Regions from separate parts of the Homo sapiens genome. Here region 2 is reported to be linked to region 1. The links are microRNA targets in miRTarBase. Many come from high-throughput screens and were not tested one by one. Region 1 holds a microRNA gene; the other region holds the end of a gene's coding sequence.
Evidence for each region. Region 1 holds the annotated microRNA hsa-miR-4787-3p (GAUGCGCCGCCCACUGCCCCGCGC, at 1,663-1,686, opposite strand). A microRNA usually pairs through its seed, bases 2 to 8, with sites in the 3' UTR of a target mRNA and lowers its output. Matches are read on the target gene's strand: a 7mer-m8 pairs with bases 2 to 8, a 7mer-A1 pairs with bases 2 to 7 and ends in A, and an 8mer does both.

Region 2: the mRNA of FUBP1 is a reported target of hsa-miR-4787-3p. The part of its 3' UTR that is shown has no 7-base or 8-base seed match.

What each region holds. Positions count from the first base shown.
Region 1 is chr3:50,672,282-50,676,815 of GRCh38, reverse strand. MIR4787 (microRNA 4787) reads right to left here and starts at 1,736; the gene lies at 1,653-1,736. It overlaps DOCK3 (dedicator of cytokinesis 3), which reads right to left and starts at 1,889. Exons shown (of 53, transcript NM_004947.5): 1 at 1,516-1,889. The coding sequence starts at 1,552. RefSeq lists a silencer at 1,636-1,925.
Region 2 is chr1:77,945,242-77,949,241 of GRCh38, reverse strand. FUBP1 (far upstream element binding protein 1) reads left to right here. Exons shown (of 20, transcript NM_003902.5): 19 at 1-87; 20 at 468-4,000. The coding sequence ends at 476. Among named protein-coding and RNA genes, the nearest start is that of FUBP1, 32 kb to the left of the region's middle.

The DNA.
Region 1 (4,534 bases):
TGATGTTAAATTACTTGCCCACACCACCAGTAAAGAGAAGCTAGGACTCTGAATTCCACTTTGTCCACTATTCAAGGGCTCCTCCCCCCACGCCCCCACCCCCGCCAAAATAGGGCTCCTCCCCCCTCCAAAAAAATCAATCATGGGGTGCCACTGGAGAGTTGACCACTCACATCAATTATTTGTTATTCTAGTTCAGCAGTTCTGGGAGCGAGTTATGGAGAAGATAAACCACCAACTCCTCACTTCACAGAATCAACTCAGTATTCAGGGAATACTCTAAGAGAAGGGGTAAAATGTCCCTAGAGGTGAATCCCAGCTCTTCGCATCATTTCTCAATTCCTTCTCAATAGAGACTCTAGGACCAGAGCTCCCTTTATCACCTCCATCCTAACATACCTAATTGTTTCAGAAAGTTACCTTTTAAAACAAGATCTTCTACCAGAATAGAAGACCTCTCTGCTGGTCCTCGAATTTAAATAAATTCAATTTTCACACGATAACCTGCCTGATAGCATTCCAAAACATTCGTTACCACTGCAGTTTCAAGTTATTTTGTAGTGAATTGTGAACTAAATCTTGATTAAATTGCGGTAAAGATGGGAAACAAAAATCTATGTTTAGACAGGTTTCCTATCTAAAATTTTCCATTACGAGCTTAGGAAAAACAAAACCTGTACACTCAACATTTTAAATCTGTTTCTAACTGAACAAGATGATAGGTGATGCAATGAGGCTTAACTCTATCATGTAATTGCCACAAAACACTAACATTGTAAAACATTCAATACTTTAAATTACTGAATATTCTTTTTAAAGAAGTTGAATATTGTAAGAATTATTTAGCTTCTGGAGTTTAACACTTACAACATTAAAAAAAGGTTTCTAAGAGGAATAAGGTCTCATCTGAAAACAGGGTTTAAAAAAAAAACCGTATAAACATTGATACATGTCCAAAAACATTTCCCATCGTAAGGTATTATTTCTAATACTAAAGGCAAAACAAATTAAAACAGATCAAACATTTGCAGTCAAATGTCCAAATTTTTGAACTGGGAAAATGATGTCAACGTTTTTCATCCGTTTTCTTGTAAGGTTCCAGATCAAAAATAAACAGCCATCGGGCTCATCAATTCAGGTGCGGAAACTCATTAAAATCGAGCTTTTGGAGGGGAGAAAACATATTCCCAGAATTTGGTTTATCGGGTAAAATTGCCCCGTGGCCCACACCAGAAACCTCGGGCAACTGCCCGGGCCTTGCCCACCCCTCCCGCGGGCCGCACCTGCCAAGGCCGCACCGCCAGCGCCCCCTGCCGCCCTCTCTGCACAGAGACCCGCGCCCACCCCCGCACCCGCACCCGCACCCGCACCTGCCCCCACCCCGCGCTCGCCCCGCGCCGAGGCCGCGCAGCCTGCGGGCAGTGGCGGGGGCACGAGGATGCGAATCCAGGCGGGGCCGGGAGCTGGGCGCGTCCCCCAGAACCCCCGCCACGGCCAGGCCTGAGCCTCACCTACCTACGCCGTATTTCTCCTCCTCCGTGGGGGTCCACATGGCCGTGCCGGGCGCGGCCCCGCGGGCGCGGCGACCGGGCGACAACGCGGCGGGGACGGCCGCGGGCCCGGCTGTGGCGCACCGCGAGTCGAGGCGGGGACGGTCAGGCGGCGCGGGGCAGTGGGCGGCGCATCCCTCACAGGCCGTCCGGGATGCCGCCGCCACCCCCGCCACGTCTGGACCGCGAGGCTCCGCGGGTGGCCCAGCAGCCCCTGGCGGCGCGGGCGAAGGCTCGCCACCTGTCCGTCGCCGCTGCTCCCGTGCCGCCGCTTGCTTCTTCACAGCTCCGCCGCCCGGCTCCCGGCGCCGCCGCGGCTCGGCTCGCCCCAGCGGGCTCGCAGGACGCCCGCGCATGCGCCACTCCCTGCCGCGCAGGGGCTCGCGCTGCCCGGGCTCGCGCCGTCCCGAGCCCGCGCGCGAATCCACGCGCCGCTGCTGCGCGCCAGCGGAGGGAAATCCGCGAGAAGCTATTGGACTGCCCGGCCCCGGACCGGCTTCTAGAATCGCTGGTCCGGGGCCCTCAGCTGCAGCAAACCCCGGAGGGGGCGAAGCCGGTCAGGTGGGCGACTCCCTCTACCCGGACTCCCCACTCGCTTCCGCTTCCAGTGCCTCCTGCCTGCGCCCCGAGATGGCCACAGGCCTCCTGGTCGGAGAGGGGAGATCCAGAAAAGGAGGACACGACACCATTTTCAGACCCATCCCAGTGTCACCCACAGTGCTGTCGGAAAGGTCCCCGGAGCCACCCTGTGCATTCCCAGGGCCCGCAGGATGGAGTCGCCACGAGGGAACCAGGTGGGGTGCACTCGTGCCCCTCTCTCCTGGATCCCCTGTGGGCTGAGGCCGCTGACACCTCCTGGGTTCTTGCTTCTCTGAGATGGCCTGAGTGGTGAATGTTTGGGGCCAGAACAATCAACAGCCGCCTTGCTAGTAAGGAAGAGCTTCATTGGGCCCTTCGTGTTCCTACCCAGGACACGGCATCTGCTGCTCCTGGGTGTCTGCCTCCCTTGGAGCCCTAAGAACTGGCTCCTACCGGAAACTTTCCTCCTCTCTCTCCTCCCTAAGAATCCATTCATTCTGATGCCTGTAAATGTCACCTTGTGACCCCCAAGTCAACCACTTACCAAAGAACAGGAACTGCAGGACTTCTCCTTTCCACCTACATTTGGACCACATGCTCTAATCCCAGCAGATTTGCCCATCTCTGTCACTAGCACTACTAAGTCAAAACCCTGGTGTCATCCTTCACTAGCACTCTCAGACACCACCACTCTTCAAAGCCCAGCTCAGCCCCTCACCTCCAGGAAGCCTGCCCTGACCCATAGTCTCCTTTCCTTCTTTGTCTGGAATTGGAGCTATGTTCGGTTTGTCTTATTTCCCTTATAAGACTGTCAGCTCCCAGAAGGCAAGCTCCAGGCTAAAATCAACTTTCTAAACCCTCACCACCAACCCAGCACCTGTTGTATAGTTGTTGCATGGGAAGCCAGACTAATAGAAGAATATCTTGCAATCAACAGATCTTGTTGATTCTTCGTTCAAAGTGTCATGATTGGTAACTCCTCCCAGGCCTGACTGTGCTCCCCTGGGTTATGGCCACCCCTTCCCACCTTCGGACCTTTAGGCTCCTCCTCTCACTAATCATAGCTGCCCACTCCCGCCCAGAAAAATGTCTGTTCTGTGAATGATAGAATTTCTCAATAGCCAGGTACACTTCTTTTTAGGGGTAGCAGGGGTGTCCAAGAACATAACGAAAGAGCTAACTGTTCCAAGAAGATAGACCCCTCCCCGGTGGCCACCATGGAAGTATTCTATGGAATGAAGCCACATTCTTACAAAACTCTCCAGGTAGCTATTCAACAAGTGGGGCTGAGCTACGCAGGCCTTCAGGGAACAACCTTAAAGCTCTTATTTCATCCTCTAAGTTCACTCCCTTGTCTGCTGTATGTGATGACAGTCACAGAGCCTAAGGGCCAGTTTTTCCAAAGTTTATACTCTTGTTCCCAGTCTGAATCCATCTTAGATTATGGCTTTCCCAGATGAAGAAAATTCTCCATGATTGCACACCTCAGCTCCAGGGTGGAAGGGCATTAAACCCAACCAGGGAAGGGAAAAGAAGGGACCAAAGTGAGAAGGAAGGGACTTAGTAAGCCTGGACTCCTACACTCTTGCTGTTTGTATAAATTTAGATTGTTTTTGTGAGTTGAAGCAAAAGGGCATAGCACACATTGGCCTTCAGCAGGACCATGCACCTGCTCTCTTATCCCCCTAGCATCTGCTCTGATCCTTTCCTTCCTCAGGCTCCCAGTCCACTCAACACACCACACACACACTCTCTCAGCATATGAGCTGCCTTCCAGCTTGCCTCTGAAAATCGAGACCCTCAGCACAGTAACCTCCCCTCCTCTCCAACTGCTCTTCTTTGTGTTCTCGCCACCACCAGGCTCACTGCCTGCTACTTCTCAGGATCCCCAACTATCATTGCCCTGTCTCCCATTTTCACCCTGACCTGCTCCACAGACTCCTGCGGTCCCAGGAAGACCTGCCCTGTTGGTACCCTCATCCCCCCATTCCCTCTCTCTTCCTCCTCTCTCCATCTGACTACAGAGGAGAATCATCCATTCCAAATCCTTTTATTTCAATGTAATTCATTTGATTCTCACCACCTGAAGGTCTGCGTTCTGACCCTGTCACCTCCTGGAAACTACTTTCCCAGAATTCCCCAGGGCCATCCCAACTTCAGACCATTGCCTTGTTCTGGCTGGGTTTTTGCATAGAGTGTCCCTCAGCTTGTGTCCTCTACTCTTGAAACCCACACATCTGCATCATGCTTCAAGAGCTGTCTCAGGGCCACTTTCCTGAAGAAGGCTTCCCCAACTGCCCTCAGTTCAGCTGGATTTTTTGCACCCATTATGACCTTTTCTGTAGCACTTACTCATTCCACCCTTCTCCAAGAGATCAAATGGGTCTGCTTCTCACATTGGCAAA
Region 2 (4,000 bases), not on the chromosome of region 1:
GCCTGGGCTGAGTATTATAGACAACAAGCAGCCTATTATGCCCAGACAAGTCCCCAGGGAATGCCACAGCATCCTCCAGCACCTCAGGTATAATGTAATTGCTAATTTGTTGATTTCTACTCCAGTCTGTTTTCTGCATGTTTACTGTTTGTCTGTTTGGGAGTGTTTGCCTTTTAAATTTTTATCTGGCAAAGTATAATAACTATTTAAATGAAGTACTACGGTGTATTGTTTGGGTTTTTTTGTTTTTTATAATGCTTTCCAGCATCTGAGTGGTGAATATTTCTGCAATGCCTTTGATTTTAAAAATAAATTTTCTTCCCCCAGGGATTTGCAAATCATGCAAGAAGCCACCACCATTTATATTAACCACTTTTTCTTTCTTAAAGGATTCACTCCTGAATTAGCTCCATTTCAAGGATTTTCTTTAACTTTTTGTGTATTTCTTATGTATCTCTTCTGCACAGGGCCAATAATAAGAAGTGGACAATACAGTATTTGCTTCATTGTGTGGGGGAAAAAAACCTTTGTTAAATATATGGATGCAGACGACTTGATGAAGATCTTAATTTTGTTTTTGGTTTAAAATAGTGTTTCCTTTTTTTTTTTTTTTTTTGAAAATGTACAAAATATCTATCACTACTGATAGGAGGTTAATATTTCTGTGTAGAAATGAAAATTGGTTTGTTTTTAGTATTTAGTGTAGATGTACACATTCCAGCAAATGTATTTGCAATTATGTGGTTGATGCTTTGTGATATAAATGTACTTTTTCAATGTATACTTTCACTTTTAAAATGCCTGTTTTGTGCTTTACAATAAATGATATGAAACCTCCTGTGTCGGTAAGTTGGATATGTGGGTATTTAAAGGATTCATAATTTCTTAGCAATGATAAATTAAGATACATATACACAAATATATAAGCTTTCCCCATGAAATATTGAGTTTTTAAACACTGGCATGTTTTTCCCCCCTTGCAGTATAGTGGTAGATTGGAGGATCTTTTCCATTTATTGTATTGGCTCTTTCAGCACAAGTAATCCTGATATCTTCATTTTTTTTCCTTCTGTTTGATTAAAAACTGCATGTGTGTACAATGATCTTTTGGCATACTTCCATTGCATTAACAGTGAAATTTCCTTTTATACATGACCACTGTTTCAGACCTGTACTGCTGCTATAACAGTTAACCTTTCTGTTCTTAATTTGATAATACTTGATTTCCAAGACTGTTTCGGCATAACTAATTTTAAACAGTTTTCAGATAGTGAATATGAGTAGTCTAATAAGAACAGTTTTTTTCCATGTGAAGCAACTCTTTCAATGTATATAATGTTAGTGTGTTTCTTTCTAAATTTAGGATAGAAAAGTGAATAGTGTGCAAAAAGTATAGCTACATTGCATCTGCCATTGAAACATAAATGGGGTATGGAAACGTTCAAGCTTTTTTTTTTTCTTTATGCAGTATAGATAAGCTTTGTTTTGTAAATGCACAAGTCCAATCATTGAATCAACTTAATTTTTTTATGTACTTGAAGTCATTTTATTACTCTTTAACACTCATGCTGAAGTTCTGATATTTTGTTGAAATCCATTGTTTTACTCTTTGCATATTTGTTGGCTCTTTGCATATTAATATATTAGACTACATGCAAATACAGTCTGTCTTGCCATTGTCTGTTGAAGTGCAGGTTTGATCCAGCCAGTATAGAACTAGCTCTGTAGGGGTGAGGAGGACTGTGCTGTGTATCATCCTTGATTGTGTTCCTTCAAGGAGCATTGCACTGTAAGTACATCAGAATGACAAATTGATGAACTGCAACAGTATCTTTTTGTCAATGTTCCACATAATGCAAATGCCATACGTTGTGTGAATATTATGTTGGAATACAGTGCTGATATCTTGGAAAACCATAACTGCCTCTTAATTTAACATAGAATAATACATAGTTCTGTATTTTTTTTAAAGTGAGCTTAATGGGTAAGTATTTTTTATATGCTTTAGCTATAGCTAAAGAAAACTGATACTTAACAAAGTTGAATAGTATTATTCACTGGTGCTCCTAAAATATTGTTTTTCAGTGTAAAATATGCATATCTTCTATATTTAATATGAAAGTCTTGAAATGTATCAGACAGAAGGGGATTTCAGTTTGCAAATAATGAGCAATGTAGCAATTTTAACACATTTCATAAATATATATTTTGTCATTGGTGGAGAGCACCATTTGTTGTTTTGAATATACTTTAAAGGAAGAGGTACAAGGACATAAATGTTGAGATTACCTACAGGATGGAAATAGCAGTACAGTTCATTGTAGATATTTTGAAATGTTTTTGATTGTTTTATATAACCTAGAGTGACTTCCCTTACCCTTATTTAGATCTGCATATATAGTTCTAGTATGAAGTTTAATAGTTAAGGAGTTAGCTATTTGTTATCTTTAAGAGTAGGGTATTGACGTGAACAATTGCAGTATTTTGCATGATACTGTTTTATAGATGACCTTTTAGGAAAGTGGTGCATTTATTAATTGAACTGAAGAAGTAGTTCAGTTGAATTCAGTATCATAATTCACAAATTGGAGGCTGTTGATTTTGATTCATTTAAGGTTTAAAATCTTTATTAATTGCAAACAGTGCAATTATTTATACTTCACAGTGCCTTCCCAGACCTTCCACCTTAGGTTCTGCTGCAAAAAGCACCAGGTAAGCACAACCTAAGGACATATATAAATAAATATTTCAATACATTAATGTTGTCCCTGTGAGGTTTTTGTGGTTGTGTATTCAAAGGCAATCTGCTACTGCTTCCCCAAAATGTATTTTGTTATTTTATGCTACCATCTTAGTGGAAAGTCTGTAAGTTGTTAAAGCAACTGTTTACATTTCTGGGTAATGTTTTTTATTTTACTTTTTTTTTTTTATTAAGACAAGAAAATGATGAGTAGATTGCTGCAGTAATTGAACTACATCCAAATCTTTTTGTATTTTTTCCCCAAATATAGAAGTGTTAATATTAAGAAAGGACAATTACACAGTTTTCAAGATTTAGGAAATCACTTGTTTAGAAACTTCAACAGCCTTCACAATCTGTTTTATATGATGGACAGAAAATTTCTTTGCCCTCCAAAATTATAATTTCTTTATTTTTTTCTTATTCTTAAACTATAATAATTCAGTAAGGATATTATGGGTTAGAATTTTATTATGATTTTTTTCTTAGACAAAAGTTATATGCTGAAGAAGGAAAAAGTTATAAGGCAGTATGTTTTGATAAAAGGCATGTGCATCAGTGAAATGTTAACTGTATAGCAAATAACCTTTCATAATCTGTAGCAATCAGTATTTTTCTGATTTAATAATATTTTAATAACTGACGCTGCATTTAATTTTTTTGCCAGTTTAAAATGTTTGTGTGTTTTTATAGATGATTTTAACTGGTACATATTTTGAGTTAAGTTGAATGTATGAAAGCAGCATCTTATCAGTTTTGTTTATTCGATTTCTAAAATGTGCTGATCCTTTTAAAACTCCTGCTTATCTCTGCAACAAAGAAAAATATTCAAAAATACTGCCTTCATTTTCACACACAGTGCTGAAGATGCTGCAAGCACCAAATCATAGCTCATAAAATCAGGTCCTGAGATAGTTACCCATAAAGAGGAATCCTTTGAGTGTATGCCATTGGTGAGCCGATGAGCATGGACCATAGAAGGGCTCAATGTAGAAGGTAAAATTGGCAAATCATAATTGAGAAATATGAAATGTATTCCCATACATAATATGGTATAGGGTGTAATGTACCTGCTTTTGATCACTTTTCATTTTAAAGTGCTATTCACTTGATCTTAAATGTTCCATGAACTGTTAAATTTCTTAAGTTACATAGTTACTACACCACATTTATGTGTATGTTATGTTTTAATAGTCAATGATAGGTATGTACAATTGATAATATAAAGGGGCTCATTGAAACTTGAGAGCCTGTTGAGTT